Homo sapiens: one gene and its partner. The protein of the gene in region 1 interacts with the protein of each later gene in a pairwise test. Each region holds a gene or a part of one and is shown in the gene's direction. Other genes may lie near its edges.

Region 1 (15,206 bases):
AGCAGGGAGCGGCCGGGCTGCGCAGATGCCGGGCGGGACTGGGGTAGGCCTGGGCATCGAGGCAGCTGTCAGGGGTTAGCAGGGTTCTGGGCAGGGAATGATGGGTATGTTGCGCTGCAGTGTGGCTGCTGGGGGGACCTTGGCCTGTTGGGGGGTGGCAGGCATGGAGGCTGGGAGACCAGGAGACTGGGCGGCCTCTGGGGACAGCTCTGACTTTTTGAGCCCCCAGGGAGGGAGGCACTGGGATCCCTCCGCATGCTCTGACTCCATTCTGGGAACCCCTCCCAGGTTTCTTCTACCTCCTGGCTGGGGGCCCCTTCCCCCGGAGTGGGCAGTTGCACAGGGCCCAGGAGGCCGGGGAGGGAGGCCAGTGGGGGGAGGCTGGGCCCTGGTAGACCGAGGGGCCTGGACAGGCTGCCTGCCCCTGCCTGACCTGGGTGAGCCTCTGCCCGGCAGGGCGGGCCCTTCACTCCTTCCCTCTCACCCTTGACCCCCTGCTTTCAGATGCTGAGCCAGGGAGGCGGCCCTTCCAGCAGCCATGAGGGAAGGACAGGAGATGGGGCCCACCCCAGTGCCCAGCAACCCCCTGCTCCACCGCTCATTCCCCTGCTGGCCCCGGGGCTGGTCTCACCCAGTGCCAACCCGAGAGCTCCTTTTGGAACCTGCACAGCCCGCCGACCTGTTGCCACCTGCACCCACCGCTGGACCATGCAGCCTCGCCTCCTGGATGCTGTCCCAGCCTGGCCGAGGGTCCCAGGTGAAGACTGGAGGGACCCCAACAGCCACCGCCCAGGACGCTGAGGCTCCCTTGCCTGACTGTGACTTGTGCCTCTCTCCTGCCCCCGTGGGGACATGGCAGCCCAGAGCCAAGGCTGGGTGGGCAGGTGACCCAAGGAACCTTTCTGGGAACACCTTCTCGCCGGGCTGGGAACAATAAATGCAGCCATGTCTCTGCAGCTGGTGCTGACCCCATGCCACCTCTAGACCCGTGCGTACTGGTGCAGCCAGTGTGGGGGTGGGTGGCGGAGCAGGGCTCAAGCCAGCCTCGGTTCCCCATCTGCGACCATGCTTGGGTTCTCCAGCCTTGCTCCCAAGTAAGGAACCCATCTTCAGCTGCCTGGGATGAGGCCCTGCCTGTCAGCATCTCTCTTCCTAGAGAGAACTCCTATTCATCCGTCAAAGCCCCTGCCCCAGGGCCCCCTCTATGCCATCCCTTCAGCCTGGGTCTCATGGGCCCTGCCCTGGAGGATCCCCACATCACCCTCATGAATACCTCTGGCAATGATTCCAGGGAGCCCCAGAGCTCTGCTGCAGGAGGCTGGAGTTCCGTGCGGCCTGGGTCCCCATGCCGGACACTCCTCCCCCATCTGCCTCCTGTGGGACTTGGAGCCTGAGACCCCATCCCAGGCAAGGTGCTTAATCAGCTTCCCTGGGGCCTTGTTCTTCCTGCAGGGGCCTGTGTCTGGGCGGAGTCCAGCCCTGGCCTGTCATCCTGTCCCCCATGAGGTTAGCCTTGGAGAGACCATGGTGCGTGGGTACCCATGGCCTGAGGTCCCCCACAGGCAACCTGTCTGGAGCTGCCACTGCCCTGTCACGAGGAGGAGCTGCCACCAGGTGGCAGCCTTGAGCCGCCCAGTCCTCTGGCTGTCTCCTTGGTCCTAACCCTTCATGTGGGAAAGCAAGTCCAGCACAGCCCATTTGTCACTCCACTTCCTGAACCCACCGTGTCCTCACATCCACTGGGGGATGGGCAGTCCCCCAGGTTTGCATCTCACATACCTGCCGACCCTCCCTGTCTGCCGCCAGGGTTGGGAGGGGCTGTCTCCACTGGGGGCCAGGCTATCGCCCCTTCAGACCAGGGTCCCCTGTCCTGGTACTATCTGTTCCCTTGGGCATGTCCGTCTGACCAGGCCTGCCAAGACTCTGCTTACGTTTCTCCTTCCCCTTCCAGTGCCCTGGGTCCTTCTCTGCCCCAGCCTCAGCTGCCGCCTCCAGGAAGTCCTCCCTGATTGCCCACCCCAGCCTGTTCTTTAGGGGAATCCTGCAGGGAAGGTTGGGGAAGCAACCCTTAAAGTGAGGGCAGAGCCCGAGGGAGGCCCCTGAGACTGCAGGTGGGGAGGGCAGCTTGGCTCAGCCTGGCTGTGTGTGGGACTGGGGACAAGCAAGTCACACCTATGACTCGGGCTCTGCTGTTCCCCATCTGTCTGGCCGTTGCGTCTGTCTCCAAACTCCCGTTTGCATCTCTCCATCTGCCTCCTTCACTTTGTCTCTGTCCGTCTCTGTCTCCATGTCTGACCCTTTGGGACACACTTTTAACAGGCACGGAGACACCAGCCCCGGCCCCCAACCCTGTGATCTGTGCCCCCCGTCCCACAGCTCTGAGCGCTTTCACCAGCTTCAAAAGGCACATTAATTACTCTAATGAGGTCAGGAGAGACCCACGCTCTGCCATCCGGAGTCGGAACATGCCGCAGCCCCCAGCCCAGCCGCCGCCGCCCCCCGCTCGAGCAGGGAGAGGGGCTCTGCTGCCTCCGTCCCCTCTGCCTGTCGGGGCCCGTGCTGCACCCCACGTTGCTGCAGAGTAATTGGCAGCCCCCCAAGGTTAATGCACTGTTAGCCAGGGGTTCTCCTGGGCTCAGAGCCGGAGAGGGGCCTGTCAGCGAGAAATGAAAGGCCCCAGGTCCCGGCTGGTGCTCGGCTTGTGAGCGTGTGTGTGCCCGTGGGAGTGCGTGTGTGTGCGGGTGCCTGGGAGCTTGCGGGGGCGGGCAGTGGCTTCCTCCACCTCTCCCACGCAGACACGCAGACACGCAGGCACCCACAAAATACAGTCTCATAGACACACGGTAAGCAACTCGGACAGTTCCATGGATGGGACGCCCGCAGCCCCGTGGGACACGCGATCACACACATGGGTGTGACCTGCTCAGCTCCTAACCCCACGCCGGGGAGTGTCTCAGACCCATGCCCCCCACCCTTGCCCCTCGGTGTGCCCACTGGACAAGCAGCATATCAGGTCTGTGCCTCTGGGTGGGGGGGGGTGGGGGTCTCTGCTTCAGCAGCGGGCCCCGCCCAGGCTGGAGTCCAGTGGACTCACTGCGGGGCTTCTCCGCTTGTGAAATAGGGGCGGGTGGGCGCTGGGGACGTGGCCTCAAAGGCGGGATGCGTTGGGTTCCTTGCGGCGCCGGCTTGTGCCCACAGCTTGGGGCCGACATTCATCCTGGGGAGATAGAGACAGGGCTCCTCTGCCGCCCTGGTGCCGGGGTGCCCCAGGGATGTGGCCCCATGTGCCAAATCACAGTCACTCGGGTTGGCAGGCGACGGAGGGCTCTCTGCCTCTTCTGGGGGTGCTGAGACCCCTGTACCCTCGACTCCCCACCTCCAGGGATCTCACCCCCAGGTGCCCATCTCCTCTGTGGGGGGCCTGAGCCACCACTGACCCCACATTAAGGCCACTGACGTCCCCGTCCTAGGCCAGCCAGCCCCTGAGAAGCACCCAGTGCTTTGCTGTGGGACACAAAGCCACACATGGCTATTCACGTTATTTCATTAAGTTACATAAAACTGGAGGTCCAGGGCCTCAGTCACCATGGGGAGAGGTCCTCAGTCGCCATGGGGAGAGGTCCGGGTCCTCAGTCGCCGTGGGGAGAGGTCTGGGGCCTCAGTCACTGTGGTGGACAGCGATTGGTGGGGGCAGGGACATTTCCTTTGTCTTGGAAAGTTCTGGACGCTGGTGGTGTCTGGACACTGGAGAACGGGTCTGTGTTCAGGCCCCAGACCTGAAGGTGGGATGAGGGAGAGAGGAAGGAGGAGGAAGGGGAGGAGGGAGGGGACAGAGTGGGAAGGAGAAGGATGTGAATGGAGAGGAAGGATGGGAGGAGGAAGGAAGGAAGGAGGGAAGGGGAGGAGGAGGAAGGAGAGGAGGGTGCAGAGGATGGGGGAAGGAGGGGGGAGGAGGGTGTGAAGGGGAAGGAGGGAGGAGGGAGCGGAGGACTGAGAAGGGGAGGAAGGTGTAAAAGGAGAGGGAGAGAGGAAGGAAGGGAGGGGGTATTAAGGGGGAAGAGAGTGGGAAGGGGGAGGAGGGAGGGGAGGGTAGTATGAAGGGGGAAGGAAGGAGGGAGGGGAGAAGGGTGGGAAGGGGAGGAAGGAGAGAGGGAGGGAGGGGAAGGTGTGAAGGGAAGGAGGGAGGGGAGGTGGGAGGGAAGTAGGGAGGGGGAGGGAGGGGAAAGGTGTGAAGGGAAGGAGGGAGGGGAGGAGGGAGGGAGGAGGGTGTGAAGGGAGGAGGGGGAGGAGGGTGGGAGGGGAGGAGGGAGGGAGGAGGGTGTGAAGGTGTGAAGGGAGGAGGGAGGGAGGGGAGGAGGGAGGGAGGAGGGTGTGAAGGGAGGAGGGAGGGAGGAGGGTGTGAAGGGAGGAGGGAGGGAGGGGAGGAGGGAGGGAGGAGAGTGTGAAGAGAGGAGAATGGGAAGGATGGGAGCTGGGGAGGAGGGAGGAGGGTGAGCTGGGAATGGGGCTGTGTGCCTGCTCTTTTCCACCACTGGCTGCAGGGGTTGCAGGAATCTTGGGTCCATGGCTGGATGGGGGTGGGGATTTTCATGTTACCCACTGGAGAAAGGGATACATTTTTATTTTCAAGGACAGCGACCCAGCCCAGGGGAAACGCCCCTGGCCCCTGGGGCTAAGCGCAGACCCCAGCTCCGTGCTTCGCAGGTGGGGGGCGATGGACAGCGGTGGGGCTCCCGCCCTGAGTGGAGCCTGTGACCTGCCCGGGCCCCAGCGCCCCGTGACCCCTGCCGCCTGATCCTTGCCTGGCTGAGATGGGGCTTCTGAAGGCTGCCGGCACCAGGGCAGGCAGCGCATTGGGTCCAATTTATTCTGTAATGAGAAATTCTCCCCGCATATTTTTAGCTTCCTCCTGGCGTCGCGGCCTTTGAAGGCTGAGGGGCTGCGGGACGCTGATCCCAAGCCCTGTGGCCTGGCCATGTGGGCAGTGGGTGCTGGGCACGGGCTGGACAAGTCCCTTCCTGAGTCTGGGTAGACCCCAGTCCCAGCAGTGCAGAGCAGGGGGCGGGGCCAGACCCCATCAAGCCCTGTACTGGCTCCAGACCAGGGACTGAGGGCGACCCTGGATAACCCCTGACCTTGGCGGACACCTGTTCCCAGAGTGAGCCTGATTTCTGACCCTTGGCTCCACAGGAAGCTTACTCTAGAGTGACCTCCGGCCGCGGCTGCGTCCCAAAGCCGGGACAGCTCCCAGCCCCAGGAGGGAACAGGGCTTCTTGGACCCCCACAGTGGCCCCCCTGCCAGGCAGGGGTTTGCCGGGGCAGCCTCGCCCAGGGCCAGGCCTCGGAGACGCCCTGCCCTCCCCTCCCTTCCCCAGGTCCTTCCTCTAGGAGCGGCCAGCGGGCGCGGGGAGGTTGAATGGGGGACGCACCGCCTTTGTTCCCGTCCCTGCTTGGGCTCTGACCTTGAGAGAGACAAGAACAGAAGGAAAACGGAGCTTCTGCTCAAATCCGTTCAGCGGTGGCGGTGGTGGCGGCTCTCGCCTCGGTGGCCCCTGCATGCAAATGAGTGGCCCTGCCATGCCTGGGTGGAGGTGGTGCCCTTCCAGCTCCCACCTGTGCAGGTCCCAGTCCTGGTTTGAGAAGAGACCCCCTCCTCCCGACCCTGGCCCACCCCTCCTCACCCACGAGATCCCTTGAAGCAGGAGGGGGCTTCTGGTCCCAGGGTAGAAGGAAGCTTCCAGAACTCCCACCTTTGCCAGGTGGCATGCTGGGGCCGGGCACGCCAAGACCCCAGGCTCACGGCCCCTTGTCCTGTGCTTGGGTGCAGCCGCCACACTCTGCTCCGAAAGTGCTCACCTCCGGGAGTGGCCGTCCCCCTCCCTAAAAGAGCCCCCCACCAGACGGAGCCGCCCGGGAAGCTTCTCCAGCCTGTCTGGGCTACAGAGCCTTGTGTGGCTAGAACCCAAGGCCCTCACTCCAGGGGTGCTGAGAGAGCCTGTCCAGAGGGCCTGCCTCAGCCACCACCTGGGACAGGTTCACGCCCTCCACTGAAGAGACACCCGGCCAGCCCTGGGCCTTCGACCTGGGACGTCTGTAGTGGGGTCAGGGGATGAGACCTGGAGCTCAGAACAGACGGGCTGAGCTCCCTGGAGGAGAGAGAACTGAGAACCTTGTCCTGGCAGGGACGCTAGAGCACTGGGTGGGACAGACCTTTCTGGAAGAGCAAGATTTTAACAGGAAGAAAAAGTGGAAGGACTTCCCAGCAGGACCCAGCCTGAACAAAGGTCAGGTGGTGTGGCCCGCGTGGCCCGCTGGGGAATCGGGGGAGGAGGGCACGCAGGAGACACAGGACAGAGCCCACCACGTCTCAGAGCTGTGGGACGGTGGTGGGTCCGGTCCCCACCCCACCTTGCTGGGGCACAGGTTAGCTTGCCCATCTCTGGGTTCACGGTCCCTGCCAGGAGTTTGGGTAATGCCTCACACAGGGACCTTCGGGTCCAAGGGCTGTTGGTGCTTGCCCTGCAGTTCCCTCTCCTGCACTGGGCCTGGTGAATGACACTAATTCAGAGACGTACAACACGATCTGGGCATCGCCAGCAAAGTCCAGCCAGCGTTTGATGACAGCCTACCCTCCACAAGCTCAGAGTCTGGTGAGGGAGGCTGTGGCATGAATAAGGGCAAAAACAGAGGGCAGGCCAGGTGCAGTGGCTCACGCCTGTAATCCTAGCACTTTGGGAAGCCCAGGTGGGAAGATCGCCTGAGCCCAGGAGTTCAAGACCAGCGTGGCCAACATGGCCAGACACTGTCTCTATAGATTGGAAAAAAGACAAAGCAGAGGCCAGGCCCCCAGTTCCCCACCTGTGTCAGCCTACCAGGAGGAGAAATCACTCGGCGTTCCCTGAACAGATCAGACCCCGGGTCTTTGCACAAGCTGTGCCCCCGGGCAGCGGCCCTCCCCTGCCTGCAGGATTCGTGCGTGGAGACTGATTTGCTGTCGGCCGGGGCTTCACTCTGGGCTTCTTGGATCCCATCCCCAGCTGCTCACACTCCACATCGGTCCACCTACTATGCTCCCGGCACCCTTAGGGCTGAGGTGTAGGGACTTACTCCATCCCCAGGGAACAGCGTGGGTCCGGAGAGGCGACTCCCAGGAGGGCCCCAGGGAGGTCGCAGCCCGAGCAGCTTTGGACTTTGGCCAGCGCCCCTCTGAAACTCTGCCCCGGCCCCCGCAGGGAGACTGGAGTTGGCCGAGCCCGATTTGGGACGCGTGCGTCGGGGTTGGTGAGGCTGCGGATAGCGCTGGAACCGGGCAGGTGAGAGGCCCGGGACCCAGGGCCGGGCCGGGTGGAGCGCGTGGGGGCGCGGGAGGCAGGGTGCGCCCCCGCCCCTCGGAGACCCCAGGCCGGGCCACGCGGATGCCGGCGGGGGGCGCGCAGAATCGGGGTCGCTGGGGGCAGGCCCCGGGGGACGAGCCTGAGACGGGGTGGGCCGGGGCAGGGGGCGGGCGCAGGCTGGAGACCCCCGCCCAGTCCCCGCGCGGCCGGGGCACGGCGGGAGGGGGCGCCCGCGGCCCTCCCGACGCTCGGGCGGGACAAAGGCCGGAGCCCGGGCCCCTCCCCGGCGGGTGCGGCGGCGGCGGCCCGCGCTCCGACAGTCCGCGCGGCCGGGTCCTGCGCCCGGGGCGACCCCGGCGCCCCGCCCCGCCGCCGCCTGACTTCTCGGCGCCCGAGGTCGCGCGCGCGGAGGCGGGGGCGGCCCGGGATCTCCAAGCGCCGCCGCGCCCTCCTCCCGCCCGCCCTCCGCCCGCCCGCTCGGCGGCGGCGGCGGCGGCGGAGGAGGCGGAGAAGGCTGGCAGGCGGCGGCCGGGAGAGCGAGCGCGGCGGCCGGACCGGGGCCATGGCGCCCGCGCAGCGCCCGCTGCTCCCGCTGCTGCTCCTGCTGTTACCGCTGCCGCCGCCGCCCTTCGCGCGCGCCGAGGACGCCGCCCGCGCCAACTCGGACCGCTACGCCGTCTACTGGAACCGCAGCAACCCCAGGTGAGCGCGGCCGCGCGCGGGGGGCGCCCGGGGACCCCCCAACGCCCCCCAAGCCGCGCCCGGCCTCGCGCCCCCGGAGCTCCGGGCGCCCCCCACGCGCGCGCCGCCGCCGGGATGCGGGCGCCCGGTTCCCGCGGGAGCCCCCCAGGGAGCTCCGGCCCCCCGGAGTTTGGGGGACTCGCCCTTTTCGCGCCTGCCTTCCCCGGGGCGCCCCATTGCCCTACGGACTGTGGGGACTCGCGCCCCACATCCCCCAGAGCGCCGACGTCTCCTGGAGTTTGGGGAACCCCTCTGGTACCCTCCGATGCCGGGTAGCCCCTGAGTTGCCTGCCTGGACTTGGGGGGACCCCTGATCCACCCGCTTCTCTGGGGAGCCCCCTCGGTTTCGCATTTGGTGGGGATCCCCGGGGACCTTGGCACCGGAGGTGGGGGACTGTGGCCCTCGAGGGATCTCTGGGTTCGTCCTGCCCGCAGGTCCCCAGATGAACTTGGGGAAGTTGGAGTGTCCCTCCCTCAGGACCCAGCATCTGCTTCACTCCAGGGGGCCAAGGGCCCAGCTTTGAAAGGAGACTGAGGGGCCGGGGAGCTGGGGGTCAGCCCCGGGAGGGGCAGTGGGATGGAGTCCTCTCTTGTCCTCTGGGCGCTGACCAGGAAACTGAGGTGCAGAGGGGATGAGGAGCTGGCTCAAGGTCATGCAAGGGGGGGACTTGGGGGCAGGACCCAGGTGGCCCAGTGCCCTGCCTGCCACGCCCGGCCGAGATGCCGCACCCGCCTGCTGCAGGCCCCCTTGTTTTGAACCAGGTCCGGGCCAGGCACAACGTGGGGGACAGGAGAAGCCCCCGTTGGTCAGAGCAAAAAAAGTTTGCCGGGGCCTGGCCATGGCCTGGACGTGGGTAGAACCCTCTGAACCATCCCAGGGTCTCCAAGACAGGAGCAGGCTGCAGCTTCCCTGGGGGTCCCGTGGGAGCCGGGGCTTTGGGGGTCCTGGGGCTCGGGAGGGAGTCAGCCCCAGCACTCAGGGTGTCACCGTCTTCCTAAGGCACACGGAGCTGCACATCGGGGGCTGAGGCGGCCCCCCCCCACTCTTCTGCTACTGGTCACTTTCTCTCCGTTTTCCAGCCGCTTCCTGTGCCGACCGAGCCGCCCTCTGGAGCCCGCCACCCCTCCTTGTCCCCTCTGTCTCCTGCTGTCCTCGGTCCCCGGGAGGAAAGTTGCATGAAGGGGTCTCTTTGAGGCGGGCTCGGGGACAAGGGCGGCCCGTGTTCCGCCGTGGGGGTGGGGAACACGCACAGGCCCACCCCCCACCCTGGTCAACGGCCTCGGGTCGGGCCCTGGGGGCTGAGGGCAGGGACCCCGGGCCGCTGGGGGACGGCTGGCCCACCTCAGAGCGGGTCCCCGAGCCGCCCGCTGTGCTGGTCACATGTGGGTTTGATTAAGGCTGTCGCTGGCCGTGCGGGGAGTCCAGCGGGCAGCGCTTCCCCGGCCCAAGTTTTTGGTTTCAGCTGCGGAATCTCCCGTCCCCAGCGTGGCCTGTCCTTTGTTCTAGCAAACGCCAAACACACGAGGACCCGGCAACCGGGGGAGGAAGGTGGTCACCAGGGCCGTCCTGCTGCCCCACCTGCCACAGGGCTGTGGGCTGCGGGCCGGACCCCCGGCCAGGGGAAGGAAGTGGCCTCCCCAGTGCCTGGCTTGGCCCAGCCACCTCCTGTTGCTCCGGGTCTGACCTGGTTGCCCAGCTCAAACCGCTGCCTGAGGGAACGGCCTTGCTGGTCCGCAGAGCCGACCTGGGCAGCACCGAGGCTGCCTCCTCCTTCCTCTCCTGCCTGCGGTATCCAGGGTTGCTGGGGACGGAGCCGACACCCTGCAGTGGGGCCCAGGGCTGGGTGAGCACCTTCCCGGGAAGCCGGGATCCAGCCAGAATCAGGGCTTTGTCGCGGACATCAGGGGTCTCTGCAGTTCTCAGATTTGGTGTCCAGGGGCACCTGCCCGGGACCTGTGCCTGAGTGGCGGGGGTGTCAGGCACAGCAGGGGGTGGTGCTGGGCCTCCGTATCCAAGGGGACCCTGTGGAGGGGACATCGGCTTGGGGAGAGGAGTGGCGTCAGCCGGCAGGCCTAAGGTGTGAGGCTGGGCTGGCCGGGGAGGGATGATGGGGTCGGGCAGGTGTGTGGGGGATGCGGGGACCCCAAGTCTTTGAGAGGGGCATACAGAAAGGCACTGGAGACGGGGACAGCCGCGATGGGGGGCAGACAGCAGCGTGGGCACCAGGGGACCGTGTGCTCGATGGGGCCTGCAGGCCCGGGCAGTGCCGCAGCGTCGCCGGCCGCCCCTTCCGCCCATTGGCCTGGCACCTGTGCCCAGGCGATGACTGTGTGGTCTGTCTCCACATCACACCCTCTCTGCTGTGAGAGGCGATGCCTGCACCCAGGGGACCCCGCACCCACCTCCTTGGGCCGCTATAAGGTGGGGCCCCGTTGGGTGGTCTGGCTGGCCGGCCCCGCCACTCCCACCGGTGACTGCACAGCGTCCGTCCAACCCACTCCCCAACCTGGGCTGGGTACCCCTGAGCTGGCCGCCAGGAGTCTCTGGGCCTGTTCCCAGCCGACCCGCATCGGGCTGGGGCGTCCAGGGCTTGGACCTGGCCGGCTGCCCTCACCTGTCCTGTTGGACCTGGCCGGCTGCCCTCACCTGTCCTGGCCACAACACCGCGTGTGCATTCCCACGGCTGCTCATGTGTGTTTGCGTGCAGCGGTGGGGAAGGGTGGCGTGCAGGTGTGCCTGGAGTCGCATCCGGCTGCAGGTTACATGTGTCTGTGTGTGGCAGGAGGCTGCGTGAATCCACAGGGCACAGCTCTGGCGTGTTTGCACATGTGTCTGCGTGATTGCATATGAGGTGCATGTGTGTGCATGAGTGTGTCTGTGCGTGGCACCCGCGTTTGCATGTGCGTGCCCTTGCACGGGATGTCTGCAGTGTCCGAGGTCCCTGTGCGTGTCTGCCTGTGGCATGCATGCGTTTTGTCTGTGCGTGGAGTGCAGGTGTGTGTGCGTGTCTGCGTGTGGGGTGCATGTAAGTGTGTCTCCCTGGGGGCAGTGCTGGCTGGCTGAGGGCCTGCAATGTGGGGGCAGTGGTGGCCCCAGCACGGTCCACAATGGCAACCCCGCTGTTGGCCCTCCCTCTCCTCCTCCCCTGGGGACGGGACCAGGGCCCGTGTGCAGACGGCCATCAAGCCTCAGAGCAGGGTGGACGCAGGGGCCTGTGGTCCCCGGGAGTCCCCACCTTCTGATTGGAAATCTGCAGCCTTGGGGGCACTGGGTGGGCGCTTGCCCACACTGGGCATCTCTGGGCTTCGGCCACCCTCCCGGGGTTCCCCACGGACCCAGTGGCCCTCGGGTGTGGGCAGCAGCCGGGTTCCCCTCAAACACTGGATGGAAAATGGTGACCTATGCAAGGGCTCACTCCCCGAGGGAGGAGCCGTCCCCCAGCAGAGGGCAGAGGTGAACGGGGTGTCTCGCTCCCCGTGGCTCCGCTGGCGTCCCTCGGCCTCTCGGGGAGCCGGCTTTGAAGGGGGTGATGCCGTGTTCTGCTGCATAAGGGTTTTTTGTTTTGTTTGAGAGAAGCTGGTCCACTCGGCATTGGGGGCGCTAGGAGAGCCGGGCGGTGGGCCTGGGGGATTCGGGGCCTGAGGGTGGGGTCCTGGAGGCCGTGGGGTACCTGGACTCAGACTCGGGAGTCTGGGAGACCTGGGCATGACGTCAGGCAGGTGGCTTAGCAGCCTGGAACCCCCAGGCCTGCTCTGCGAAGTGGGGGTGACGGAGCCCTGCGGTGGGTGCGGCTCGGCCGATAGGGCCTGGTGTGGATGGGCAAAGGCCTGAGGGTGGTCCCAGGGGTTAGTGTCCCCTCCCCAGAAGGGAAACCGAGGCAGCTCCTGTGGTGGGGAGGATGCTTCTGCCGAGGCACCATGGTCTCTGTGTCTCACGGTCTCTTTGGGTCTCTGTCTTCCCCATCTCTGGGCATCCTGGGGTGCCATGGGTGGCCCAGGCCTTCCGCCTCCACTGCAGGCCTCCCTGGGCGGCCTCAGTTTGCAGAGAAGGGAACAGAGGTTCCGTGGCGGGGGGCCGTGAACGCAGTGGGATTTGACCTTCCCCCGTCTCTGGGCTGACGTCTCCGCAGGTCTGCAGGGGACTGGCCCTACGTGGGTCCCTCGGGGTCACGGCGGAGGCAGTGGGTTGTGCATTCATGGGGGTCCGGGTGGTAGCGTTTCTGTGGAGCCGGTGGTCTCCTTGTCATCCATGAGGGTCCTGCCCCGGTGGCCGTGTGTTCCCCGGGACACGGCTTCTCTCCTCCCCAGGAACCGGGATGCAGCCAGGCCTTGCCCCTCAGTCCTGTGTGTGGGACCAGCCTCTCCTGCAGATGGGTCCTCAGGGAGAGCTGGGCTTTGTACCTTGCTGGGGGAAGGGCTGAGCTGCTCCCGTCCCTGTGCCCACCGTCCCGTCGCCCCAGACACGCGGCTGGAGCCTGCGGAGGAGCAGACGAGCCGGCGGGGTTTTTGCTTTAACCTCAAGCAGGCGTTTGAACTCTGTGGCCGAGTCGGTCCTGGTGGGGGGCTCGTGCCACACCTGCTCCCAGACCAGGCTGGTGTGGGGTCTGGCCGAGAGACTCAGCGGCGTGTCCCCCCAGCTCTGTGCGCCCCTTGTCCACCTGCCCTGTGGGTCAGGGGCCCCCAATTCAGGGACAGAGCAGCCGAGGCCCTGAAAGACGGTGACTCACCCAAGGCCACCCGGAAGTTGGGCAGAGTCCAGGGTGTCCCACCTGGGGCCGGCCCGGGGGAAGCCAGGGACAGCCCTGGGAGGGGCAGGAAGGTGGGTGGCCGACGGCAGCTGCACTCTGTACCAGGGCCACCCACGCCCACGGTGACGGAAGCCCAGGTGGGGCTGACCCTGCCCGGCCCATCTTTTTCCTATTTTGCTTCATTTCTAGGGCCCTGCCTCAGTTTACCCTCCTGCACCACAAGGCCATACTTGTCCTTTCTTGGGCAGACCTTGCACCATCCCGGGGACTGATTTCCCTTCAGGTCCCACCCAGGTCCTGAGCAGGAGGAAAAGCTCCAGTCCTCAGTCAGGGGGGACATCTCTTCCGTCCCTGGAAAAGCCAGGTGTGGGTGCTGTCACCCCAGCAGGTCTTGCTGGGGGTGGCAGGAGGGGACGGGCGGCCTCAGCCCCACGCTGGGCTTCAGGACCCGGGCTGCCTGCTCATCCGGCCAGCCTGGGCCTCCCCGGGAGCTTCTCCACCCTGGAAGAGAGATGCAGACGGGTGCAGGCGTCCACCTGCCCACCCACGGGGTCCTGGCTGCCGGCCACACCACTGCCTCAGTTTCCAGTCCTGGAAGGCAGCCCAGCCCACCCCCACCCCAGTTTTGGGTGAGATTCCTAATTAGTCGCTTAGCTATTAGCGTCTAATAACTTGACAATTGCCCGATTGGAGCTAATTAGCTCCAGGCCGCTTGCTGGAAGCTGGTGACAGCCAGGAGGCCCGGGTGGGCAGGAGGGGAGCCCTGCTGGGTGAGCCTCTGCCTGGGGCCTGGAGGGCTGCCTGGAGGCGTGGACTTTGGCACCCGCAGGTTGAGTGAGTGTGGGGGGAAGGTGTGGCCCGGCAGAGGGAACCCGGAGGAGTAAAAACTGCCACCGCTGCTCTGTCTGGGAAAAATCCCAAATCAGTCATTAACCCCTTAGTGAGAATTTCAGTCTCTCTGCCGCTCCGGGGAGGATTTGCATATCGAGGCTTCATCACTAATGGAGGAAGCGAAGGCTTTGTCTGCCTCTCCCCAGGTGCGGTTTTGGGGTGGGGGCCCCCTCCCCCCTGCAGGCGCCACCCTCAACAGGGGCAACGCGCCCACCTCGGGCTTGCCCGCCAACTTGGAACCGGGAATGCCAACACAGCAAGGCCGCTGCTATTTTAGAGACGCAAAGGGAAAAATACGGCCCCACTCCGGCAGGCAGAGCCGGGGGTGGGGGTTCCCCTGGGACCTGCCCTCCAACACACACACCTGTGGGCTGCTCCCCACAACTCTGGCATTGCAAAGTCCTCGCCTCTTGACCTTTTTAATTCACTCATTATTGAGCACCACTGTATGCAGGGCCTGTGTAGGGCCCTGGGGAGGGGACAGAGGAGGCCAACATCAGGATCCGGGATTCAGACAGCAAACCCTGTAAAGAGCAGATGTGATATGGGGCGGGGCACAGGGAACAGCACTGCAGGCAGTGGGAACAGCAGCTGCAGAGGCCCTTGGTGGGAACAGGGACAGCCGGGAGGCTGGTGTGGCTGGAAGGGAGGAGTCTTGGAGAGAGGAGGATGAGGAGGGCGCAGTGGATGGGCCACACAGGCCTGGAGGGGTGTGGATTTTATTCTGAGGATCAGGAATGGATGGAGGGCTCTGAGCCGCCGCCAACGTGTTACAGGGTCTGTTTTGCAGAAGAGCGAGGCTTGGGATATGGGGAGGCTGGGCCCCGGCAGACCCTCACCGCAGCCTGGAGGGGCCCGGGCACCTGGCCGCTCAGCCACACAGAAGCCTCGGTCTCTGACATTTTACCGAAGGCAGAACAGGAGGAGAGAACACAGTGGTGTCAGACGTGGGGGAAGGAGGCACCATTGGGGAACCAAGAGGCCAGAGGGGGACCTACAGGGCTGGTGCTGTGGGCACTTTCAGAGGCTGCTCTGTCTCAAGAAGTGTCCTGCTAGGAGCCAGGTTCTTTTTTTGGGTTGAATGTGGCTCCCTGGGGATCACTGCCGGGACAGGAGGGGAAACTGAGGCCAGAGGGCAGTGGGGAGCCCAGACGCCCCTGTGGTCCCTCCACGGAGGCCTCCCCTGCAGGGTGACCTGGGTGTGGGCAGTCCCAGGCGGGAGCTGGGCCTTGGCTACCATCGACCGCCTGATCAATGGGCTTTCACTTGGGCTGGGCAGGAACGAAAATGACTTTTCAAAAAGGCTGGAGCAGCTTCTGCATCGATCGTGCCCAAGGGGCCAGCGGGTCAATGAGATGCCTGTGCCCGGCCGGCCAATGGGGCAGCCTGAGGGGTGGGCTGAGGCCGAGCCCATCTCCATCTGAGCCTGTATGGGGGCTGCCCCCGTGTCTGTGCGGACGCACCCCGAGTGTCCAACAGCCGGGAGGACCAT
Region 2 (15,354 bases), on another chromosome or scaffold:
TCACAGTTATTATAATTATATGCAAATTTTCTGAGTTTTAAAAAATTTAATAGTAAATGGGTAGTTTTTCCATATTCCTTAATTACTCTTAAGATTATCAATTTTAATGGCAGTATAGCAATTAAATTAATTTGATCAGTTTTCTAAAAACACTTCCCGTACTGAAAAGTTAACTGAAAGCAGTTTTGAAAAGTAATTACATTTACAGTGCTGGATGCATTGACAGCATACTTTTTTTTATTGGCCAACTTAATTTTAATTGTGTTTTAATTGCAGAGTCACCTAGCTACTGAGTTGTGCAACTGACCTCTAACCTCTTTTTATAGGTAAATAGTGCAAGCTTCCCCAAATTGATTTTGAGCCCTATTTTTAGTTGACCTTCAAATAGAGGATGTGATGCCTTCAGCTAATAGTGATTTCTATACAGCAATTTTCCTGTCCCAGTCCCATTGCACTTTAATGACAAAGGGAGATGAATAGGAACGACATCCTAGAAATTCTTATTCTGTATTTTTACTTTTACTTTTTCATCCAATTTTTGTGCATTTTCAGCTGATTAAGTTGCTAAAAAAAAGTGAGAGAATTTATAATATTAAAAAATGTTATTTTTTTCTGGAAAGAATTTTTCAGGGACTGAAAATAGCATCAATTAGGCACCTGTTTTGTATCAAAGTAAGTGAAGGAAGCATTTTTACTTCCTCTGATGTGGATACTACTATTTCTTTTTCCCCCAGGGAAGCCTTCTCTGCTTCTTTTCTAGAAGCCTCCTGCAGTGTACTGATATCTTTCTTACTGCACTGATCATAGTTATTCTAAGTAATTGTTTACTGCTTGCTTTCCTTGCTTCACTGCTGGTACCTGAAAAACCAGAGACTGCCTGTCTTGGTCACCATTGCATCATTATTGCCTTTCATGTGGTTGACATTCAACAAATTTGTTGAATTGAAGAATCTTGAGAAAATTGAGGTTGAATTGAATAGCTCTTCCAGGCACCTAACTACTAATTGACAGAGGTGACTGCAAAACCTGTGGCTTTACCCTATTCACAATGACTTTATGAATTAATTACTCTGGGCCTGGGATTCTTCTTCCATAAAAATGGGGCAGTTGTACTAAGATTAAGATCCTTGTTTCCTCCAAACTTATGACTTTATAATAATAATTCCGAGGATACCTTTGTTTGCCCTTTGGTCTATTTTTAGACTATACACATTATGCAGAATTGAGCTTTTGGACCAAATCTTGAAACTCTTTTGGGACTTCTCAGTCTCTTTTTAGAAATATGTTAAATAATACACTGACCTTACTTTTGTTAGCAAAATCATGGGGACCTGACAGTGGATTATAGCAAGCAAATAGTCTTTTTTTTGAGACAGAGTCTCTCTCTGTCACCCAGGCTGGAATGCAGTGGTGCGATCTTGGCTCACTGCATCCTCCACCTCCCGGATTCAAGTGATTCTCCTGCCTCAGCCTCCTGAGTAGCTGGGATTACAGGCGCCCACCACCATGCCCAGCTAATTTTTGTATTTTTAGTAGAGATGGGGTTTCACCATGTTGGCCAGGCTGGTCTCGAACTCCTGACCTCAAGTGATGCACCGCGCCCCTGCCAGCTTCCCAAAGTGCTGGGGTTACAGGCATGAGCCACTGCACCTGTCCTCTCAAGATGAGTTTTCAAATTTCATGGCTGAGCAATGGCTCAATGAGAGGAGGATTTTTGATGAAACTGATATATTGTCTTGAGATCTCTCTCTATATATATATGTGGGGTTTTTTTTGTTTTTTGTTTTTTTTTTGAGATGGAGTGTTGCTCTGTTGCCCAGGCTGGAGTGCAGTGGTTTGATCTCGGCTCACTGCAACCTCCACCTCCCGAGTTCAAGTGATTCTCCTGCCTCAGCCTTCCGAGTAGCGGGATTACAGGTGCACGCCACCACGCCCGGCTAACTTTTATATTTTTAGTAGAGACGGGATTTCACCATGTTGGCCAGCCTGGTCTCAAACTCCCGACCTCAAGTGATCCATCCTTCTCAGCCTCCCAAAGTGCTAGGATTACAGGCGCACCCAGCCGATATGTTTAAGTTTTAAGCAAAAGGCTTTTAAACACATCTCAGAACCCCTGAAAGGTGGAAGTGGGGATTGTAAGATTCGTGGAATTTGGTCAGAGAGTAGTTTAGCCTCTGCCTCCTCCAACCAGATAGCTCTTCTTTTTTTCTTTTCTTTCTTTTTTTCTTTTTTTGAGACAGAGTCTCGCTCTGTCACCCAGGCTGGAGTGCAGTGGCTTGATCTTGGCTCACTGCAACCTCCACCTCCCGAGTTCAAGTGATTATTCTGCCTCAGCCTTCCGAGTAGCTGGGATTACAGGCGCTCGCCACCACACCTGTACGGCTAACTTTTGTATTTTTAGTAGAGACGGGGTTTCACTGTTGGCTAGGATGGTTGATCTCCTGACCTTGTGATCCACTGGCCTCGGCCTCCCAAAGTGCTGGGATTAAAGGCGTGAGCCACTGTGCCTGGCCGATGGCTTCTCTTTTATCTGTTTTGACCTGGGATTTCTCATAGCATTTTGTTTGATGAAAGGGCTCCCCTGCTTAAAACAAAAAGTTTGAAAACCACCACTTTGAGGAAAAAGTTTCAGAAAGAAACCCTCTTGCCTTCCAACTATTATTATACCCCAATTAAATATAGTCTCTCTCAGATTCCAGGAAAGTAACAGTCACAAAATAGGTTACTCCTCTGCCTTTCAACAATTCCCTTTACTGTTCAAAATATGAGTGCTGCTCATTTATTACTCTTCCACTTACTATTTTTTTTAGAAACAGTATCTTACCATGTTGCCCAGTCTTGAACTCGTAGACTCAGGGAATCTTCCTGCCTTAGCTTCCTGAATAGCTGGATTACAGATGTGTACCACCATGTCTGGACCACTTATTTGGAGCCATTTAAGGAATTCCCTGTTTCTAATGACAAAAAATGATCAAACATCTGTGTTGATACTTGAAAAAAAAAATGGCAACCCCTATTTGATTAAAAGATAACATTGGCTTAGTTTATAACATTTGGTTAAGAAATAGTTGTAAATATCAGTGATTTCTTTATAATATCTTAGAAATCAAGAGTGTTTTAAAGAAAAAAAGAATGACATCTTTGAGAGTAGGGATCTGGATTATTAATACCACTATTATTTTTAAACTGATGCTCTTTATTTGGTAATATGGGAAATTAGGGAACAAAGGACATTTAGTCCAATTTTCCTTCTGCTACTTGGATGTGTAGTCTGTATTTGAATAATTCCAGTGAGGAGGATTTTACCGTCCTTCAAAGTCAGGATATTCTCTCTTAGGACTGCTCTCTTTCCTAAAAATGTCTCTCCATTTACTGACTAGATGTATTGTCTCATAGGGACCTGGTTTTGCTTAATAATTTTTGAAGCAAACTCTCTTCTTCTCCATTCAGCTGGGATGCCAGTAAATTAAAAATAGCTCTAATTTGTGGTGAAGAATAAATGAAATCACTTACCCATTTTATTCGTTTTCAGTTGGATTAGACTTCAGAAACACAAACTTTACTTAGCATAAAACTTTTTATTTTAAAAATTTTAGGTATAAAATTTATTTAAATATATTTTATGATCCTAATTCATTTTTTCTTGATTATTTAAAGTTATTATTGTGAATTTCAGATACTGTTCTCTATGGTGATGCCTCCTGCAGGTCCTGTTGAGTTTTGTAGGACTATTTTCCTCTTCATTCTAGTCAATTTAATAAACATTGAGTGATTACCTCCCTAAATTCAGGCTTCTTATATGCACTTGGGAATGCAACATTAATGAGATGTCAGCCAAAATAGCTCAGCTGGGAGAGTATTAGGTTGAAGATACAAAGTTCCTTGGCTCAATCCAGAGTTTGGGGGACTTTGTTTTATCTCAAAAAAGCTGTGTCTCAGTCTCTTTGTGTTCCTATAAAGGAATACCCAGAGCTAGGTAATTTAGAAAGATAAAGGGTTTCTTTGGTTCACAGTTCTGCAGACTGTACAAGAAGCATGGCTCCAGCATCTGCTGCTGGTGATGGCCTCAGGCAGCTTCCACTCATGACAGAAGATGATGGGGAATGCATGTGGGCAGAGATCACATGGCAAGAAAGGAAGCAAGAGAGACAGTGGGGAGGTGCCAGGCTCTTCCTAACAACCAGCTCCTGCAGGAACTGGTAGAGCGAGAACTCACTCATTACCACATGGACAGCACCAAACTGTTGATGAGGGATCTGACCCCATGACCCAGACACCTCCTATTAGGCTCTGCCTCCAAGATTGGGGATCGAATTTCAACATGAGATTTGAAGGGATCAAACATCCAAATTATAGCAAGCTGTTATTAAAAATGAGACACAATATCTAGAGTAAGGAGACCACAGATATGGATGGTGGTGCAGGGACAGAAATGTAACATTACTCTGCCATGTACAGTATGGTAAGTACTAGACTAGAAAATAAACGGGAGGAAATGGGACCAAATGAAAGGGAGAAGGTGATCTCTAGTAGGGGTCCCCAACCCCTGTGCCATGGACCAGTACCAATCCATGACCTGTTAGGAACTGGGCCGCACAGCAGAAGGTGAGAGGTAGGCAAGCAAGCATTACCACCTGAACTCTGCCTTCTGTTAGATGAGCAGCAGCATTAGATTCTCATAGGAGCACAACCCTATTGTGACTGTGCATGCGAGGGCTCTAGGTTGCGCACTCCCTGTGAGAATCTAATGCCAGATCTGAGGTGGAAGAGTTTCATCCCAAAACCATCTCATCCCCTCGCACCGCGGTATGTGGAAAAATGGTCTTCCATGAGACCAGTCCCTGGTGCCAAAAAGGTTGAGGACTGCTGTCCTAGAGGGCACACAGATCAACACATCAAGTGTCCTAACCTAAGGAAGGGCCTGAGTAAGGGTCTGAAAGTGCATTGAATGTCTGTGGAATGGCAGCCATTTCTGGTATACCTAAAGCATAAGGAAACAGGAGGAAGGAAAGTGAGGTTAGACTAGGTTGTGAAAGGGATTATATGTCCCACAAGGAGTTTGAACTTTATTCCTTCAACATTAGGAACCTGTGTCAGGAGACTGATGTGATTAGATCTGCTTTATAACTTTTGGTAGCATTGTGGCAAGTGCTAAGAATAATGTTTCTGGTAGGCCAGGCACGGTGGCTCATGCCTGTAATCCCAGCACTTTTGGAGGCCAAAGCGGACAGATCACCTGAGGTCAGGAGTTCGAGTCCAGCCTGGCCAACGTGGTGAAACCCCATCTCTACTAAAACTACAAAAATTAGCCAGGCGTGGTGGCAAGCGCCTGTAATCCCAGCTACTCAGGAGGCTAAGGTAAGAGAATCATTTGAACCCAGGAGGTAGAGGTCACAGTGAGCCAAGATTGCGCCACTGCACTCCAGCCTGGGTGGCAGAGTGAGACTCTGTCTCAAAAAATAATAATAATAATAATAATGTTTCTGAAACTTTGATCATTCATCCTCCATCTTTGCTATTTTTGCCATACTTGAAGCATGCTTTTGGCTGATGAGATAGACCAGTAGGAAGAAGAGGACATAACTAATGAACTAATGGATTAAATTTCTTGTCTTTTTTTTTTTTTTGAGATGGAGTCTCACTCTGTTGCCCAGGTTGGAATGTAGTGGCATGATCTTGGCTTACAGCAATCTCTGCCTCCTGGGTTCAAGCGATTCTCCTACCTCAGCCTCTGGAGAAGCTGGGACTACAGGCACCTGCCACCACGCCTGGCTAATTTTTGTGTTTTTAGTAGAGACGGAGTTTCACCATGTTGGCCAGGCTGAATTTCTTACACACTTAATGGCCATAATATTTTAGTATCTGTGAATGCTTTTTATAGTGTTAAAGTTCCTCCTTGTTAACATTGCCATTTCACATTAATAATAGTGTGCTTGCCAAAGCAGGCCCTTTCCCCCTTGTCTTCTAATATATAGCTGGCTAAAAAATTTAAATGAATAAGCTTGTGTCTGACCCAAGGTAAAGTACTTAACATTCAATGAGTTGGCCTGGAGAGATTTATTTTGATCTTTAGAGGACATTTTTTTCTGATTCTTATCTTATTCTAGATCTTTGTAACTGAGCTATCCAGCCACTTCATATAAGTGAACTATAACTATAATTTGTTTAAAAGATCATAGTTACTCATTTTAAAACATTTTAAAATTTATTTTAATGTAGGTGATTGGAGTTGTGCTTCAAAAATTTCAGAAATTCAGCAGTATTTTATCTGCCAACAATAAGCTCTTTACTTGATTGCACCATGAGAAAGCTGCTAATGAGACTTGTTGAGCACAAAAATGGACTTGAAGAACCAAAAGCCATTGTTTTCAAATGAAGAACACTGAACAGTTTTAAGCCTCGATGCTTTTTAATCACCACTGAGCTTTTCCTCATAACATCAGAATGGCAAGCAGGCGAAAATCAACAACACCTTGCATGGTCCTTGCCAGTGAACAAGATCCAGACCTTGAGTTGATATCAGATTTGGATGAAGGTCCTCCTGTGCTTACACCTGTAGAAAACACCAGAGCAGAGAGTATCTCAAGTGATGAAGAGGTTCATGAATCTGTGGATTCAGACAATCAGCAAAATAAAAAAGTTGAAGGTGGATATGAATGTAAATATTGTACTTTTCAAACTCCAGATCTAAATATGTTTACTTTTCATGTGGATTCGGAACATCCCAATGTAGTGCTAAATTCATCCTATGTTTGTGTCGAATGCAATTTTCTTACCAAAAGGTATGATGCACTTTCTGAGCATAATCTGAAATATCACCCAGGAGAAGAGAATTTTAAGTTGACTATGGTGAAACGTAATAACCAGACAATCTTTGAACAAACAATAAATGATCTGACTTTTGATGGTAGTTTTGTTAAAGAGGAGAATGCAGAGCAAGCAGAATCTACAGAAGTTTCTTCTTCGGGAATATCTATCAGTAAAACTCCTATCATGAAAATGATGAAAAATAAAGTGGAAAATAAACGGATTGCAGTTCATCATAACTCAGTTGAGGACGTTCCTGAAGAGAAAGAGAATGAAATCAAACCAGACCGTGAAGAAATTGTAGAAAATCCAAGTTCTTCAGCTTCTGAATCTAATACAAGTACTTCCATTGTAAACAGAATACATCCAAGTACTGCCAGCACGGTAGTGACACCAGCAGCAGTTCTTCCTGGATTGGCACAGGTGATAACTGCTGTATCTGCTCAGCAGAATTCTAATTTGATTCCCAAAGTCTTAATCCCTGTTAATAGCATTCCCACCTACAATGCTGCATTGGATAACAATCCCCTTTTACTTAACACCTACAACAAGTTCCCTTACCCAACAATGTCAGAAATTACAGTTCTTTCTGCTCAAGCAAAATATACAGAGGAACAGATCAAGATATGGTTTTCAGCCCAACGTTTAAAACATGGTGTTAGTTGGACTCCCGAGGAAGTAGAGGAGGCAAGAAGGAAACAATTCAATGGAACAGTGCATACTGTACCTCAGACCATAACTGTTATTCCTACACACATTTCCACAGGGAGTAATGGTTTACCATCTATTTTACAGACATGCCAAATAGTTGGTCAGCCTGGTCTGGTCCTTACTCAAGTGGCTGGAACAAACACCTTGCCAGTTACAGCACCTATAGCCTTGACAGTGGCAGGCGTTCCAAGTCAAAATAATATACAGAAAAGTCAGGTACCTGCTGCTCAGCCTACTGCAGAAACAAAGCCAGCAACAGCAGCAGTTCCAACTTCTCAAAGTGTCAAACATGAAACTGCATTGGTAAACCCTGATTCATTTGGCATTCGGGCAAAAAAGACAAAAGAGCAACTGGCAGAATTAAAAGTTAGCTACCTTAAAAATCAGTTTCCCCATGATTCAGAAATTATCAGACTTATGAAAATAACAGGCCTGACGAAAGGAGAGATTAAAAAATGGTTTAGTGACACAAGGTACAACCAGAGAAATTCAAAGAGTAATCAGTGCTTACATCTCAACAATGATTCCTCTACCACCATTATTATAGACTCCAGTGATGAAACCACGGAATCCCCAACTGTTGGTACTGCACAGCCTAAGCAATCCTGGAATCCTTTTCCTGACTTTACTCCCCAAAAGTTTAAAGAGAAAACTGCAGAGCAGCTTCGTGTCCTTCAGGCAAGTTTTCTCAACAGCTCTGTACTTACAGATGAAGAATTAAATAGGTTAAGGGCACAAACCAAACTTACCAGAAGAGAAATCGATGCTTGGTTTACAGAGAAGAAGAAATCAAAAGCTTTAAAGGAAGAGAAAATGGAAATAGATGAAAGTAATGCAGGTAGTTCCAAAGAAGAAGCTGGAGAAACTTCTCCTGCAGATGAATCTGGTGCACCTAAGTCAGGGAGTACAGGCAAGATATGTAAAAAAACACCTGAGCAGCTGCACATGCTTAAGAGTGCATTTGTCCGGACACAGTGGCCATCACCAGAAGAGTATGACAAGTTGGCCAAAGAAAGCGGGCTTGCTAGAACAGACATAGTTAGTTGGTTTGGGGACACCCGTTATGCTTGGAAGAATGGAAACTTGAAATGGTACTACTACTATCAGAGCGCCAATTCAAGTAGTATGAATGGTCTGTCTTCCCTTAGGAAAAGAGGGAGAGGGAGACCCAAAGGACGGGGAAGAGGAAGACCGCGTGGGCGGCCTAGAGGAAGCAAAAGAATTAACAACTGGGACAGGGGACCATCACTCATAAAATTTAAAACTGGAACTGCAATACTTAAGGATTATTACCTGAAGCACAAGTTTCTTAATGAGCAAGACCTTGATGAACTTGTTAACAAATCACATATGGGCTATGAGCAGGTCAGAGAGTGGTTTGCAGAAAGACAGAGAAGATCAGAATTAGGTATAGAATTATTTGAGGAAAATGAGGAGGAAGATGAAGTTATTGATGACCAGGAAGAGGATGAAGAAGAAACAGATGATAGTGACACTTGGGAACCTCCACGACATGTGAAACGGAAGCTGTCTAAATCAGATGACTGAAATGTAAGTTAAGAAAATTTTTAATCTGCGTATATGTTCATCAACCACATACATTTTGAACAGTCACCTTGTTGTATCAGTCATCTTCATTTTTGATATTTTCTGAAGTAGTTTTTCTTTTCCCTAATAAGACTAGGTACCACTAGTATAGCTAAGAGATAAATGATTATCATGTGTAGTTTTATTATTATTATGTAGAGTTTAATGTCTTAATTATTATTTTTCATATGAATTGGGTTTTTTTTACTTTGTTTTGAAGGAAAGTTACCCAATCTCTATGAAGGGAGACTGGCAGGCAGGTTGAGGGGATTCACAAACAAATACTAAAGATAACTAAAATGTATTTTATTGCAATGCCCCCTTCACTAAAGCTTCATTTTTTGCCTATTTAAGGAAATAATTCAAAAATGAAAACTAAAAAGAAGGGGAAAAGTACACCAAAGGAAAGACTTACCACAGGGTTGAGGATTGTGCAGTTTTAGGAAACTAGGTGAAAATGGGTATCTTTTCATCTTCATTGCATTGCTCCCAAAACTTTACTAGACTTTTAACTAGAGTTTAAAATGCTTTATGTATTTATGAAATTACTCAGTATCTTTTTAGTAATTTATAAAATTACTCAATATCTTTTTCTGTTAAAAGTCAAAGGTCTGTTTTAGGCCATATATAAATTCATGTTTGCTTAGGCGGCATCTGTCTTTGAAAACTGTGATATAAATTATTTCTGTTTTAGAGATCAAAAGGCAAATAACAGATTTGATATAAACCCAATTGCTTAAAATATCTTTTCATTCTTTGGTATAAAACAAACCTGCTACCAGCACTAACATTGTATTTGATTTAAAGTATATCTCTGTAGTCTTAAAAATGCAAATAAATATGGCTTAAATTTGAAAGGTTTTGGCATGTTCCTTAAATCTTAGTTCTTTTATAAATTGGATTAATTAAAGTTGAACTGTAGTTGCAAATCAGATACCTGCTTTGGAGTTAGGAATTGAATTCTTAATACTTCTGGAATTTAATAACATAGTTTTATTCTTTGCTATTCTTTGTTTTGGAGTGTTCCGGGGTAAAAGTACACTGTTTTGAAAACAATGCAGTTGTCATGAAATGTTTGTGTATGTCTGTCAGTAGTCCAAATAGCATCTTGCTATCAGAAATGACTGCTGTGTTCAAACAGTAAGGAAGGAAATGAGACGTAGACCCTCATTATTATTTTATACGTGAGCATGCTTACTTATTTCCTTGGCTTTTTGCATGAGTATCCCATCCCCTACTTTTATGCTCTGTTATTCTGTGCAGTTTTTCCTTAATTCCCTTACATCTTCTCTCTGGTTTTATTTATTTTAACAATTATTTATAGAGAGCTTAATATGTACCAGGCACTATTCTTACTGCTTGGCAATCCTTTTTCAGGTTTTCTCCTTGTTAATATTTTTTAAGGGATAACAGATGAAACTAAAAATGTACCTGTTTTAATAAGCAGTATAAATATCATTCCAGGTTATAGGGTATAATGTAATCATTTTAGGTTATAAGAAGTTAAACAGTTTCATACAGCTTTATCCTGAAGTGCAGCCCTCCATTTCCTAATGTCAGAAATCTTCAGAGCAGGCTTTCTTCTGACCCAGATACATAAAATATTTTTAACAGGCATTTTTTTTATTGCTAAACACAAGAATGTGCACTCAGCCAAGATTAAATCAACAAATTTGTTGCTGCAGTGAATGTTGTTGTTGTAACCTCTGCAATGATTTTTTTGGGGAGTTGCAGTCTTCCAAAAATAATGTGAATTTTTCTGTACAGTTTAGTTTGACCTTTAATTTTGTATAGATAATTCTTATGTTATATATTAACACTGTAATGGATACTAATTCTGGTCAGAAAATTCATCCTAAAACTACAGTTTTCAAAAGACTGTATGATGTATGCTATACATGCACTGTATTAGTCCATTTTCACACTGCTATAAAGAACGACCTGAGACTGGGTAATTTATGAAGAAAAGAGGTTTAGTTGACTCACAGTTTTGCCGGCTTAACAAGAAGCATGACTGGGAGGCCCCAAGAAACTTACAGTCATGGCAGAAGGCGAAGGGGAAGAAGGGGAAGCAAGCACATCTCACCATGACCGAACAGGAGAGAGAGCGAAAGGGGATGTTCCACACAACTTTCAAACAACCAGATCTCCTGAGAACTCACTCACTATCATGAGAACAGCCAGAGGGGAAGTCCACCCCCATGATTCAGTCACCTCCCACCAGGCTCCCTCCCCCGACACTCCCTGATTAAAAGTTATGTATGGGCTTATACAATTTCAAATGTAAAAACAGCCTATTTACATATGTTGAAACAATAAGATTTTGTGGTATCACTGTCCCTTAATAATTACAATTCAAGGTAAGATTTGGATGGGGACACAGAGCCAAACCATATTATATACTTTTGTGATAGCATAGAAGCATGCCTTTTTAAATACACAAAAGTCTAAATTTCTGAAACATCAAGTTATCCTTGGCTGAGTAAAATAATTTTTCACTTATAAGAGGATTCACCATAGCCTTCTCTAAATAGTTATTTCTTCATTTAAATATTGTTCAATTTACCAAAAAAGTTACCAAAACCTTCCCAAAATAGTTATTACAGGAAGTGAGGTACATATATATCTTTTGCACCTTGTATAGAAATAGAAAAAAGTACAAGTCTTTAGATTTCATAGTCTGCTTATTACAGATACTGACAATGAAATATATACTCCCTGCTCATACAGTTTGAAATAAATTATTACATAAAGATGATAAATGTTTATAAGCAAATCTAGCATATGAAGAACATATACATAGATGAGTTGCACACAAAGCCTAGTGTATTATGGAAGACATATGTGGCAGGTAATCTCAAGAGAATACAAAAGATGTATTTTCACTTTTATTTCTAAAAGTAGTAAAAATTAAAATATGGTTTTCTTTAAATTTTCAGTTTTTTATGATGTTTTTCTTTTTTAGCTGCCTAAAACGTTGAAGGAGAATCAATTCTTCAACTCAAGATGTCTGATTTACTGTGAATTTGCCCAATCTTTGATGACATTGAAAACGTTTTGGGGCATACACACTCAAAAAGCAGGATCCAATACCCAAAAGAAATGGAACTTAATGTTGTGCCAAAGTTAAACTACTGCAGTTGGTGGAAGTTCTGCAATGTAAATAGAACACTAATTAAAAAACAACTTGTAAAAATGCAATTTAAATTTTAATACAGTACATTTTTCTTCTAATATGATGGAGACATTCTGAATCTTAGACTTTCTGAGGGGGTTTAATGACCACTAGAGCTTGTCCTCATATTCAGTCCAGTTTAATACTGTATGTCTAGTAAGATGGGCTATATATTGCCTCTATTCTTTGAGATGTGATTAAGCTTAGAACTTTGACCAAAAATTTTACAGTAAAAATTGTTAGAAATGGGTAAAAAAAAAAAAAAAAAAAAAACCCTGATTTATTACTATGTCTTATTTATCAGACCCTGCACTAAGATTAAAAGTTGTGCATGGGCTTATACAATTTCAAATGTAAAAACAGCCTATTTATATATGTTGAAACAATAAGATTTTATGGTTTCACTGGCCCTTAATAATTGGATCCTTCATTAAACACATCCATGAATACCACTGTTTCTACTGTTACTTGTTCCATTAGAAGCTGATTTGCTTTTTATTAAACTGCAGGAAATTAATTCTGAAGAAGGAAAAGAAACTGACATGGTAATTTGGATAGGGTGAAGCTTTGAAATAAATACTGCACCAAAAATGTGAAAAAGAATCACGTAGTAAATGTATACTTAGTGTTTTCTTACAATCGTGGAAATCAGAAATGTTTATACAGGTGTCAGATCAGAATTTTTAAGAGTTATCTTTCAGTGAAATTTTATAACAGTTTCAGTGAATAGAGAAAAAATTCTGAACTGATCATAATGAGTTAAAAGTTAGCTTTTCACTTATGAATCATGGGAGTGTTAACTGTTAACTCTTGCCGTATCAGGAGACTGAAAGTTCATACTAATTTACAAACTTTGTAAAGACTGGTGCTGTTCATTCATATTGGGAAGAACCCTTTCTTTTGTGACCATAGGACCATTTTTCAAAATGCGCTTTCTTCGTAGAAGAAATGTTCAGTTTAATTAGCTTTGGATTTTAACATGTTTTTCTGAATGACCAGATGTAGGCTTAGCCAGTTTATTTTCTCTAATTTAATGGATAATAAATATTAAGCTCTTGGTTAAATGTTTTTCAGCCATTGAAAATGTTATGAAAAAGCCTTGAATATGCATGCTGCTTTCATTTTTATAAACTTTTTATTTTTTAACTATAGCTTTATTAGTAATTCCAAAATGCTGCAATGTAGCTGATTTCCTCACTCAGACAGCTGGCTTTGTGGGTGGCTTTTTTCATACTACTGTTAACTTTTTTAAAAAAGAAGCAATGTAAAGACCGTAATGCACTAAGCTTTTTTTTTTTCTTTTACACGTTTAAAAACTTCTTAAAGCACTCTGTAATATAATGATTAAATTGCTCCCTTTTATAAACATTGCTAATGTGGTCTGAGTTTTGTTTGACAATAATTTTAATGTTCTCAAAATTTGAAATGTCAAGTATTAGAAATGAAGCCTTTGAATATAGTTGTTTCCCTTGCAATATGTTAACTCTGTGTAGCTGTATATAACTATTAATTTCCCTCATCTCTTTTATAGGCCTGATAAAACTCTTCTCTGACGTTTGCTAGCTTTTAAATATATTTATTTGACAGAGCAAAAGAACCCTCTTCTGGTTGATTGTGACCTTGAATACAAAATAAAAGTAGTGATTAGTAGTTTACAGTGACCTTTTTTTTTTCATTTTATTAACAAAGTCAATTTTTAAAACATTGTGGTAAAATATATATCACATACTATTTGCCATTATACCAGTTTTTAAGTGTAAATTCAATGGCATTAATTATATTCACAGTGCTGCACCACCTTCACCACTTTTCCAAAAGTTTTTCATCACCCCAGACAGAAACTCGGAACCATTAAGCAATAACTCCCCATTCCTCCCAGCCCCTGGTAACCTCTAATCTACTTTTTGTCTCTATGAATTTGTGTATTCTTGATATTTCAAAGAAGTAGAATCCTAAAATATTTGCCCTTTTGTGTCTGGCTTATTTTAACTTATAATGTTTTCAAGTTCATCCATGTTTTAGCGTATATCAAGACTTTGTTTCTTTTCATGGCTGATTTATGTTTTATTGTGTGTGTGTGTGTGTGTTTGTCTGTACACGTGCACTTCCTCCCACACACATTTTGTTTATCCATGTATCTGTTGATGGAAACTTGTTTTTTTCCCGCCTTTTGGCAATTGTGAATAATGCTGCGGTGAACATTGGTATACAAGGATCTGAGTACCCATTTTCAGTTCTTTTGAGTATATCAAGGAGTAGTATTCCTGAATCATGTGGTATTCTGTGTTTAATTTGTTGAGGAACCACCAAACTCTTCCACAGTGCTAAAATGTTCTCTGAAGCATCTGTACCATTTTACGTTCCACTAGCAATATACAAGCATTCCAGTTTCTCCACATTTTTGCCAACACCTTTCATTTTCAGTTTTAAAAAGTGATTATAAGCCCAGTGCGATGGTCTGTGTCTGTAGTCCCAGCTACCAGGGAGGCTGAGGTGGGAGGATCACTTGAGCCTAGGTATTTGAGGCCAGTGAGAGCAATATAGTGAGACCCCATCTCTAAAAATAAAATAATAAAAATTATAACCATCCTAGTAAGTATGAAGTGGTGTCTCATTGTGGTTTTGATTTGTGTTTCCCTAATGATGAGTGATAATGTCATTAGGAAAATGCAAATCAAAACTACATCTTTTCACATAATTATTTGTATATCTTCCTTTGAATATATTGAAAGTTTGTTCAATCCTTTGCCCAGTTTTTAATTGGGTTGCCTTTTTGTTGCTGAGTTTTAGTTCTTTATATATTCTGGATGTTACAGCTTTATCAGATACAGTTGCTTCTTGACTTAGAATGGGGTTTGTCCTGATAAACCCATTGTAAGTTAAAATTTTTGTAAGTTGAAAATCCATTTAATACCCTGATGAACTCACCATAAACTTGAACTATCATAAACTATTACTATTTTTTGAGACAGAGTCTCTGTTGCCCAGGCTGGAGTGCAGTGGCACCATCTTAGTTCACTGCAACCTCTGCCTCCTTGGTTCAAGCGATTCTCATGCCTCAGCCTCCCAAGTAG

The links.
Region 2: the proteins of EFNA2 (region 1) and ZHX1 interact in a two-hybrid assay, tested with the Homo sapiens proteins (one study listed by BioGRID).

Annotation. Positions count from the first base shown.
Region 1 is NC_000019.10:1,278,273-1,293,478, forward strand, and holds the start of EFNA2 (ephrin-A2 precursor), read left to right. Parts: upstream 1-7,600; 5' UTR 7,601-7,896; coding exon 7,897-8,036; intron 8,037-15,206. Other genes in the region: protein FAM174C precursor, read left to right, coding at 505-505. UniProt on the Homo sapiens protein: Cell surface GPI-bound ligand for Eph receptors, a family of receptor tyrosine kinases which are crucial for migration, repulsion and adhesion during neuronal, vascular and epithelial development.
Region 2 is NC_000008.11:123,247,037-123,262,390, reverse strand, and holds the end of ZHX1 (zinc fingers and homeoboxes protein 1), read left to right. Parts: intron 1-6,219; 5' UTR 6,220-6,444; coding exon 6,445-9,066; 3' UTR 9,067-9,069; intron 9,070-12,070; 3' UTR 12,071-13,935; downstream 13,936-15,354. UniProt on the Homo sapiens protein: Acts as a transcriptional repressor. Increases DNMT3B-mediated repressive transcriptional activity when DNMT3B is tethered to DNA. May link molecule between DNMT3B and other co-repressor proteins.